Linked DNA regions of Homo sapiens: region 2 is linked to region 1. The links come from fine-mapping of genetic effects on gene expression. A gene starts in region 1. The other region holds a variant in brackets. All regions are shown on one strand. Distances are from middle to middle. Region 1 holds the start of AHCTF1 (AT-hook containing transcription factor 1). Region 2 overlaps ZNF670-ZNF695 (ZNF670-ZNF695 readthrough (NMD candidate)).

Region 1 (5,376 bases):
TGTGCCACTGCACTCCAGCCTGGGTAACAGAGCAAGACCCTGTCTCAAAATAAGTAAATAATAAAAATATAGACAATGATACAGAAATCATTCTGTTGATAATGATGGAAAGGATTAAAATCTGAAAGACTATGTAGACAGTCAATCTGGATAATATGTGCAATTAAAATAGATTTTTGAATTTCACAACTGGAAGGGCTCTTAGAGCAAAGTTAATAAATATCTGTCTAATGAATCAGTCAATCCCTTGCTCTACACATCTGATAACTGAAGCCCAGAGAGGTCACTTGATTTTCCTAATGTCACACAGCTCACTAGCAGCACACCTGAGTTGATAATTCATGTCTTCTGACTATCGAGAGGTACAGTACTCATGAACTGGGCATAAAACAGTGCCAAAGAAAGTGTAGAATATGGAGCATGTGACATAAATCAGCACATCCAACAGAGGGTGGTTTCTGTTTGAAGAGATCTCTTTAAAATAATTAAGACAACGAACCCCAAACCTCCTACTGCAAAAGCAGTACTCTTTTTAACTGTTTCTATCACAACTTGGTCCAATACCTTGTGCAAACAAACATGATATGTATGGAGGTTGCTGTTACTAAAGAAACAAAAATTACAGAAAAAAGAAAATTACATTTCCAAAAGGCAGCATTATCTCTGAAAGAATATGGGCCAGGCATGATATCCATGCCTGTAGTCCCAGCTGCTCGGGAAGCTGAGGTGGGAGGATAGCTTGAGCCTAGAAGTTGGAGGCAGCAGTGGCACTGATGAGGCCATAGTGCCTGCGAATAGCCATGCACTCCAGTCTGAGCAACACAGCAAGACACAGTCTCTACAAAAATAAAAATAGGCTGGGCATGGTGGCTCATGTCTGTAATCCCAGCACGTTGAGAGGCTGAGGCAGGAGGATCTCTTGAGCCCAGGAGTAGAGACCAGCTTGGGTAACACAGTGAGACAGTCTCTACAAAAAATAAAAAATAAGGCCGGGCGCGGTGGCTCACGCCTATAATCCCAGCACTTTGGGAGGCTGAGGCAGGTGGATCACGAGGTCAAGAGTTCAAGACCATCCTGGCCAACATGGTGAAACCCTGTCTCTACTAAAAATACAAAAATCAGCTGGGCATGGTGGCGCACACCTGTAGTCCTAGCTACTCTGGAGGCTGAGACAGGAGAACCTCTTGAACCTGGGAGGCGGAGGTTGCAGTGAGCCGAGATTGTGCCACTGCACTCCAGCCTGGTGACAGAGCGAGACTCCGTCTCAAATAAATAAATAAATAAATAAATAAATAAAATAAAAAAATTAATGGGACGTAGTGGCGCATGGTGGTCCATGCCCATAGTCCCAGCTACTTGGAGGGCTGAGGTAGGAGGATCATTTGAGCCCACGAGTTCGAGGCTGCTGTGAGCCTTGATTACACCACTGCACTCCAGCCTGGGCGACAGAGCGAGACACTGTCTCAAAAATAAAAAAATTTAAAAAGCACATATGAAAGGTAACAGAAAAGTAGAAACTTTCCTGATAAAAGAGCATCTTCTTAAAATCCCTACTCTACCTCATGTTATAATCCTTTTACTTACTACTTAGTATTAAGGATACGTTCCCTATCTGTTTGAAACATGTTTGGCGCTGGGATTTGCTTCAAAGGAAGATACTAACAAGAAATAAGAAATTCCACAATGAAAACCCGCGGTGACCAAAAAGATAACAGTGATTTGGGGTAAAATTTTGACTAAAAAGATTAGGCTAGGCTGCGCGAGCATTTTTGGCCATGAAAGCACAGGAGGATGCTAGAAAAAACAGCACCGTGGAAAAAGCGTTTCCCCAGAAGTCTGGGAGCCCACCTTTGGCATGAAAAGCGGGAGCACAGGTTGTAGTGAGCCAAGATCGTGCCACAGCACTCCAGCCTGGGCAACAGAGCAAGACTCCGTCTCCAAAAAAAAGAAAAAGAAAAAAAGAAAAGTGGGAGCACAGAACAGAAAATACAGAATGCAAGCTGCCAATTATGGGAGAAAGATTATCACTCGGCCCCCAGCTGGCAGGGCCACACGATTACGTGACAAGAGAGTCCGCCTGCAATCGCAGCAGGCGGCTGGCAGAGCCCGGCGCGACCCCCAGCGAAGACTACCACTCCCAACTGCGCACGGGGCGCGCCGCCGGGGCCGCCAGGGCGGCTTCACGCGCAAGGCACTGTGGGACTCGTAGTCTTTCTCCCCACCAGCTCCTCGGAGGCGGAGAGACCCGATTTTTTTGTAAATGATCCGCCCTTCCAGGCCCTGCTTCTCTTTCCTCCCTTTCCCTCCCACCTCCTTCTTTCACCGAGAGTTTGAAAATTCCCGCGGAGCCGGCGCTAGAGCGCGGAACCATCGCGAGAACTCTGGTCCCTGCAGCCGCGATCTCCCGCCGGTTCTCCCCTCCCTCTCCGCCCTTTCCTCTGCTCCCTCCCTTCCGGGGCGTGTGGAACTCGGTTTTGTCGGCGCAGGGTAATGCGCAGAGCGGGGCCGGCGCTGTCCGAGGCGAGCAGGCAGCGTTGCAAGGGGAAGGACCCAGAAGCGCGGCGGGAGCAGCGACTGCGTTTTAGCCGCTGAGCGGTCTGCAGGCCTACAGCCCGCGAAGGCACTCTCGGGGGCGTGTGGCTCTGAGGTGGCCGGGGAGGTCGCAGGCGGCGGCCGGAGCGCAGAGGAGCGGCTTCAGCCGGGCGGAGGGGTGTGAGCCCGGCCCGTGGCGGCCACGTCTCCCGGGAGATGCTGTGACGGACCCGCACGGGAGGAGCTCGCGCCTGGCCTGGCGACCCGGTGGACTCGGCCCGCGGCGGCGCGCTCACCCGCCCCGTTCAGGTAGGGGGAAGGGAGGGAGGGGGTTGGGCCCGCGCGGCGGAGGGCGGGTCGCGCGGCCTGGACCCGCGGCGGCGGCGGCGGCGGCGGCGGCGGCGGCGGGGCTTCTGCCCCGCGAGCGCCGGGCCTAGGCCGGGCGTGCGCGGGGCCAACGGATGGGGCTCGAGGGGGCGAGCGGTGGCGGTGGCGGGTACGGCAGGCTCGCGGGCGCCGGGCTTCGTTACATAATCTCGGACCGGAGGAGCGGCGGCACATGGCGGCGGAGCGGCGCTGGTGGTTCGCGTCCTGCGCCGGCAGTCGGGTCCCTTTACGGACGGCCGGGGCCGCGACCCTTTCCCACTGTTCTCCCACGCGATGGACTCGTTGGCGGGCCTTTCCCCGAGGGAAGCGGCCGGCGTGCTGAGCCTGTCCTGTGTTGGCGTGTGTTCCACATGCGCTTGGGCCTGGCCACAGTGAGTAGTCCTGGCGGGGAAGAAGTTGGACTCGGGGCTCAGCCGTGAGGTTCCAGCTCACCCGATTGGTCAGATCAAGGAGATTTAAAATAAAAGCACATCTTGGGGTGCTTTGCCTTCCTTTTTCCTACCTGGGAAACAGGACGGTTTCTTTTGCCACTGGTTGACTGTTTTGGTTTGGGTGTTTTGTTTTGAGAGATGGGGAAATTTTGTTCTCAAAGCTTACGAGGTTCATACTATCTGTGTGCAAAGTTTTATGAGATGAGCGTTATTTTTATTTCCAAATCGTCAGTTGTAGAAATTTTTGGAAGAACTGGGTTCTTCATAGAACAAAACGTAAATCCTTTGGGGAAATCCTAAACGATATTTATTCTCAGAATATCCTAAAGAACCTGTAGATTTTAAGAACTGTCTTTGGCTGGGCGCAGTGGCTCCTGTCTGTAATCCCAGCACTTTGAGAGGCTGAGGCGGGAGGATCGCTTGAACCCAGGAGTTTGAGACCAGCCTGAGCAACATGGCGAGACCCCCCCTTTTTTTTTTTTAAACTGTTTTTTTGTGAGCTTTCACTGATAGAGTCTCTTAGGAGAGAAGAAATTAGAGTGGTTTACTTATTTCGGAGGATTTGACCTGGGATGACAAGCCCAGTTAAGGTTAATACTTGAAGGGATGTTTTAAGTGTGCCAAGCGCTATGGGAAGTCTACGTTGTCTCTGTACTGTGATTTTTGGATCCTGATCCTTCAGTAACATACTACCAAGCTGTCACGAGTTTGCAAACAACAATAATTATCTTGAAAAAATTTTTAAAACATCATGTCAACCGGGAATTGGTGGCGCCTCTAGTCGCGCGCCTACTTGGGAGGCTGAGGCGGGGGGAACGTTTGAGCTTCAGCCTCAAACTGAGAGTTCGAGGGTTGCAGTGAGCTAGGATCGCGCCGCTGCACTCAGCCTGTGTGACAGAGCGAGAACCTGTTGCTAAAATAAAATAAAAAAGATCGTTATACATCAGTTTTGAGACTTTTGTTTTCTTTTTATGCTTCTCCTTTTTCATAGGTACAGATACATCTTTTTTTTTTTTTGAGACGGGGTCTTGCTCTGTTGCCCAGGCTGGAGTGCAGTGGCACAATCTTGGCTCACTGCAACCTCCGTCTCCCAGGTTCAAGCGATTCTCCTGCCTCAGCCTCCTGAGTAGCTGGGATTACAGGCGCACGCCACCACACCCGGCTAATTTTTGTATTTTTAGTAGAGACGGGGTTTCACCATATTGGCCAGGCTGGTCTTGAACTTCTGACCTCGTGATCCGCCCGCCTTGGCCTCCCAGAGTGCTGGGATTACAGGCGTGAGCCACCGCGCCCGGCTGGTACAGATATATTTTAAGAGGAAGCAAAACGTTGTGTCTTTCACGCCTACCTTTAATATTTTCAGGGACTTTTCTTTCTTCCCAGAATGAAGTGTAACTTCCCTCGGTTAGCTCAAAGGTCTCTACAATAAGTATATGCTACTGTCTATCCTCATATGTTAACAAATTTTATGCTTTTGCTATTCCAGAATCGTCATCAATCCTGGACTCATTCTGTGGAAGAGATGTTTCCACTCTGATGTTTCTTTGCTCATGTCCTTCATCCTGGAGTGCCATCTTTCCTTTTTTAAATACTCAAATTTCAGGTCCTCCTTCTAAATCCAATGTTTTCACTGTATTTTTATTTTTATTTTTATTTTTTTGAGACGGAGTCTCACTTTGTAGCCCAAGCTAGAGTGCAATGGCGTGATCTTGGCTCACTGCAACCTTCGCCTCCAGGGCTCAAGCGATTCTTGTGCCTCAGCCTCCCGAGTAGCTGGGACTACAGGAACGCGCCGCCACACTCGGCTAATTTTTTGTATTTTAGTAGAGACGGGGTTTCACCATGTTGCCCAGGGTGATCTCGAACTCCTGAGCTCAGACGATCTGCCCACCTCGGCCAACCAAAGTGCTGGGATTACAGGCGTGAACCACCGCACCCAGCCCACTGTACTCTTTTATTTCCCCTTATCCCACTTTTTTACTGGGATCTCACAGCATATGTACCTCTATTGTAGTAGCATTTATTC
Region 2 (5,376 bases), 31 kb before region 1:
GCTGGGACTACAGGCGCCCGCCACCATGCCCAGCTAATGTTTTATAGTTTTAGTAGAGACGGGGTTAGCCAGGATGGTCTCCACCTTCTGACCTCGTGATCTGCCCACCTGGGCCTCCCAAAGTGCTGGGATTACAGGCGTGAACCACCGTGCCCGGCCTGTCTTGCTCTTCTTGTAGAGTCATCAGTCTGATTCCCATAATAAACCATTAATCTGTTAACCCATGGATTAATCCATGAGCAGACTAATCCATTCATGAGGGCAGAGCCCCACGACCCAATCACCCCATAAAGTTCCCCCATCTTGCAGTACTGCCACATTGGGGATTAAGTTTTTATTTTCTAATTTATTTTTTATTAAATTTTTTTTTGAGACAGAGTCTCACTCACTCTGTTGCACAGGCTGGAGTGCAGTGCCGCGATCTCAGCTCACTGCAACCTCCACCTCCTGGGTGCAAGTGATTCTCATGCCTCAGCTTCCTGAGTAGCTGGGATTACAGGCATATGCCACCATGCCCGGATAATTTTTGTATTTTTAGTAGAGATGAGGTCTCACCATGCTGGCCAGGCTGGTCTTGAACTCCTGACCTCAAGTGATCCACCTGCCTTGGCCTCCCAAATTGCTGGGATTATAGGCATGGGCCACTGGGCCCAGCCAGGGATTAAGTTTCAACATGAGTTTCTGAAGAGACAAACATTCAAACCATAGCAATATTTGTCTCCAGTCCTTTGGCATAGAGTTCCTAAAACCCTTTAATTTCCTGAGTAATAGGGGCGTTAGGAGAATCTTTTGTTCTGATATTTGGTCTTTGATCTTGGTTCCTGACACAGAGATCCTGATCACTTGGAATTTCCTGGGTAATAGTAGCGTCTTTTTTTCTCATGGGGCACCTCTTGGTGGGCTCCTGGATAGGGCTGGTCACCAGAAAGACCAAGCCATGATTAGAAACTTGGAACTTTCAGCTCAGCTCCCCATCCTCCATGAAGGGGAGAGGGGCGGAAACCTGAGTTAGTAATTGGTGGTGCCTATGTGATGAAGCCTCCATGAAAATCCCTGAACTGTGGGGTTTGGAGAGCTTCCGGGCTGCTGAACACGCGGAGGTGCTGGAAGGGCGATGCACCCTGGAGGGGGCGTGGAAGCCACCTGCCCCCTCCCCCATACCTGGCCCAATGCATCTCTCCCATCTGGCTGTCCATCTGTATCCTTTGTAATATCCTTCCTAATAAACAGGTGAACATAAATAAAGTGGTTTTCTGAGTTCTGTGATCCATCCTAGCAAATTATCAAATCCAAGGAGGGCACCATGGGAACTCCAGTGTACAGCCTGTCAGTCAGGAACACGGGTCACAGCCTGGGGCTTGTGACTGGCATCTAAAGTAGGGGCAGTCTTGTGGGACTAAGTCCTTAAGCTGTGCAATCTGACTCTAACTCCAGGTACATAGTGTCAGGATTGAGTTAAATTGTAGATCACCCAGCTGGTGTTGGAGAATTGGTCGGTGTGGGGAAAACTCCACACACATTTTAGCAACCGGAGAGGAAGTATTCTCTGACAAGTATGACTGTAGAAGAGAAAGCAGTTGGTTTTTCCTATTATACACAACTCCATTTAAAATCGCAATAACCCCCGCACCTGCTCTGGCACTGCCAGCCTTCTTCCCTGCCGGATTATTCTCCATAGCACTTGTCTTGTCATCTAGCGTAGAATTTACTTGTTTGTTCGCTTCATTGTTCCTCCCCTCCCACCACCATCACCACCACTGGAAGGGAAGCTCTACAAGTCAGGAAGTTTGCCTGTTTTTTATTTTTCTTTTTATTATGTTCTGTAAAATCAGAGTTTCACTCTGTTACCTAGGCTGGTCTCCAGTTCCTAGCCTCAAGTGATCCTCCTGCCTCAGCCTCCCAAAGTACTAGGATTACAGGCATGAGCCGCTGCACATGGCCAGTTTTGTCTGTTTGATTCACTGATGCCCAGCACCTAGATTAGTGGCTGGCACACAGTCACCTTTAGTAAACGTGTCATGAATAAATGAATGCAGAAGCAGTGGCAGGGGTGAGCTAGTTAGTGAAGGATGGCCACTTCCGGATGAGGGAATAGCATGGAAAAGCACTAAAGGCAGAAGGAGTGTGACATGATCGGAAATGGACATTAGATGAATATAGCTGGAATGAGGGGCATGGAGAAAGGTGGCAAGAGACAGGAGCCGGTTTGCCTGCTAAGGTGTTTGGACTTCAGCCTAAAGGCAGCGAGGAATCGTTGAAAGGTTTCAAGGCCGGGCATGGTGGCTCACACCTGTAATCCCAGCACTTTGGGAGGCCCAGATGGGCGGATCACAAGGTCAGGAGATCAAGACCATCCCGGTTATCTACTAAAAATACAAAAAAAAATTAGCCGGGCGTGGTGGCGGGTGCCTGTAGTCCCAACTACTCGGGAGGCTGAGGCAGGAGAATGGCGTGAACCTGGGAGGTGGAGCTTGCAGTGAGCTGAGATCGTGCCACTGTACTGCAGCCTGGGTGACAGAGCGAGACTCCGTCTCAAAAAAAAAAAAAAGAAAGGTTTCAAGCTGGCAGAAGGGGGTCAGAGAGGTGATGAAATCTGATGTTAGTAATTTAGAAAGATCACTCTTGCAGAAAACATCAGCTTAGAGGTGAAGAGGCCAGCCCCACGGAAGCCACTTGCTTCTCATTTTAGTAACTCTGATGATCAATGATGAGGACCTGAATTAAGTCAGTGGCCAGAGCCATTGAGAGGAAAGGGGATGGATTTGAGAGGTATTTAAGAAGTAAAATCTTTATGACGTGGTAAACAAATCGTCTGTGAGGTATGAGGCAGAGCAAGAGGCTAGGACGACCACCAGACTTCTTGCTTGGGTGGCTTGAGGGATGTGATGCCTTTCCCTGAACTCTGGTGTAAAGCAGTCGTGCTGCCTTGCTAGCCATATTCCTGTGACTGGGCCATGAGGGCCCAGTGCTGATGGGGCACAAAGCCCAAGCCATTCGTCAGTGTTCCCTACGTGTGCAAGCCCAGCTGGTGACAGGAAGTCTGACCTGAGCCCCACTAGTCAGCAGCCTCTCCTTCATTAGGAAAGACCAAGCCTAGCAT[A/G]TAAACATTGCTTTAATTTGTTAGCCAGGGCTTTGTGGCTTCCTGCCGCCTTGACTGCCCTATGAAGCAACCAGAGAAGGAAATTACACATGGATTTCCTTAAAGAGAAGTTCAGATTTCTCTAAGGTTATAAAGATACAGGCAGCAGTGATCGTCACCACCACCGTCTGCCATGACAACTCATATGTCTGCAAAGCACAGTGCCATTGAGGTGCCTCTCTATGCCTCTGCGTTCTTGAGATCTTTTCCCTTAACTGAATGATGAAGGGAGTGATGAAGAGGGCCCTTTGCTAAGCAGCCTGGTGAACACTGAAGTCAATGATCACAGGAGTCAGATCACCCTTACTACTAAGTTCAAGCTATCTGAACTCCCTTCCAGAATGGGAATGAGGCAGGCTGCAGGATGTGGAGCCCGAGGGCAGCACCCAAGAAAATAGTCTAAAGCATCTTTTGCCTATCTCAGGGACCAGTGGGTGACAATTGGGTCTGAAGCAAAATACTATAAGCAGAGGTAGCAAGAGGGAGTAGGTGAATTCAGTAGAGTGAATGGGAAGCATCCTGGAAAGATTCCCTGAGTGTCTTGGGAAGGAGAAGCAGAGCCTTCCTGTACGTATGAAGAGAGCTGTGAAAGCAACACTCTTAAACTCAAGCAGCTTATAGAACAATGGCCCTGCAGTTTATGGAATGGAGGTGGCAGGGAGTAGCAATAATGGGGCTTAGGATTTAAGAACAGGCACTGTGGGAGGCAGAAGATTTGCATTCATTCATTTTAAAAGACTTTATCGAGTATCTACGTGCACATGAAATAATAGGTAGCAATATAAGATTGTCACATGAACAAATAAACAGCTCATTATAGGCTGGTGCAGCTGGAGGTGGCTTTGAATGCATATATAACTTCTAATGAAGTGTTATGCCTAATTAGTGGAGTAACGTATATAATTTTTGAACTGATGATGCTAAAGATGAGAAGTTTGAGTTACATATGCATTATTTGATGTTAAGACTTATACCCCATGATTTTGAAATAGCTAAGTTTCTTGGTCATCAACTGACCCTACTATGAATTTCAATGAGTGAATCAAGTCAGGAAGCCCACCTTCATAGTGAACATGTTTTAAATGATAATTGAAATAGAAACATTTTTGAGCTCAAAAGACCTTCATAGATTCTTTACTTTTACAGCTCTCTCTACCATTCTTTGTGTTGTTTTTTGTTTTTTGTTTGTTTGTTTGAGACAGGGTCTCCACCCAGGCTGGAGTGCAGTGGCGTGATCTCAACCAGTCCAGGCTCAGGTGATCCTCCCACCTCAGACTCCCAAGTAGCTGGGACTGCAGGTGAGCACCACCATGCCCAGCTAATTTTTATATTTTTCTAGAGTTTTGCCATGTTGCCCAGGCTGCTCGCGAACTCCTGGGCTCAAGGGATCCACCGGCCTCAGCCTCCCAAAGTGCTGGGATTACAGGTGTGAGCCACCATGCCTGGCCTGTACCATTCTTTGAAGGATAGATAGCTATCTTGAACTATGGAGAAATGATCTGAATTTGTAGACAGAAATGAAGAAAAGAACTTGTCTTGCATGGCCAAGTAGGTCTTGTATAACCTTATCACTCTGAATGGAAACAAATGGTTCTCTGGGGCATATATATAGAGAGAGAACATAGGTAGTATTCTATACTGCTACACAATACCAACTGTTTTTACTTTTACATATATGACAAACAGCATTGGAGAAACTAGCAAACCACTCCAAAAGAAACCACACTCTATATAATATAAATTTTTCCCCAAACTGCAATCATATCAGCCTGCTTGAGTACAGCAAAATGCATCTAGGTTACTGGGAAATCTTAGGGTGGCAGTGTTGTTCACTCTAAATATATTAGTGTTCCAGATAAAACTGTGGTTCCCTTTTTGCTGATATGTTTACAATTTCTTTGAATAGAAAAGAGGAAGTATTACAATATGAGAAAGTTTCCTTAAATAATGACGTGGCAAAATGTGTGAAATCTGAGAGGAAAAGCAAGCAGTTAAATTATTCATGAAGCTTCTCAACTGGGTTTTTCAATGAGATTGGTTTGTTTCAAATAATACATTGTGAAATATGTAATCTAACATACTTAGAGGAAATGAAGTTCAGTGAAATTGACTGTTGCATGAAGATAGCAGCTTACCAAAATACATAACCATAGTTATGAAAACTCATACATTGCTACGGAACTAATGGATCAGAAACACTGGAGAGTTTTTGCTTCTGAGGAACAGTCCACTTTCAC

Evidence for each region. PIP is the estimated chance that this variant, and not a neighbour inherited with it, causes the effect.
Region 2: its variant is fine-mapped to the expression of AHCTF1 in whole blood (TOPMed, PIP above 0.99).

Annotation. Positions count from the first base shown.
Region 1 is chr1:246,929,043-246,934,418 of GRCh38, reverse strand. It overlaps AHCTF1 (AT-hook containing transcription factor 1), which reads left to right and starts at 2,471. Exons shown (of 36, transcript NM_001323342.2): 1 at 2,471-2,841. RefSeq lists enhancers at 2,089-2,138, 3,259-3,348 and a silencer at 2,819-2,918.
Region 2 is chr1:246,959,869-246,965,244 of GRCh38, reverse strand. The region is part of intron 6 of ZNF670-ZNF695 (ZNF670-ZNF695 readthrough (NMD candidate)); the gene reads left to right. It also overlaps a transcript of ZNF695 not described here. Among named protein-coding and RNA genes, the nearest start is that of AHCTF1, 31 kb to the right of the region's middle. RefSeq lists enhancers at 2,663-2,712, 2,763-2,922. The variant A/G (reference allele first, on the strand shown) is at 3,101.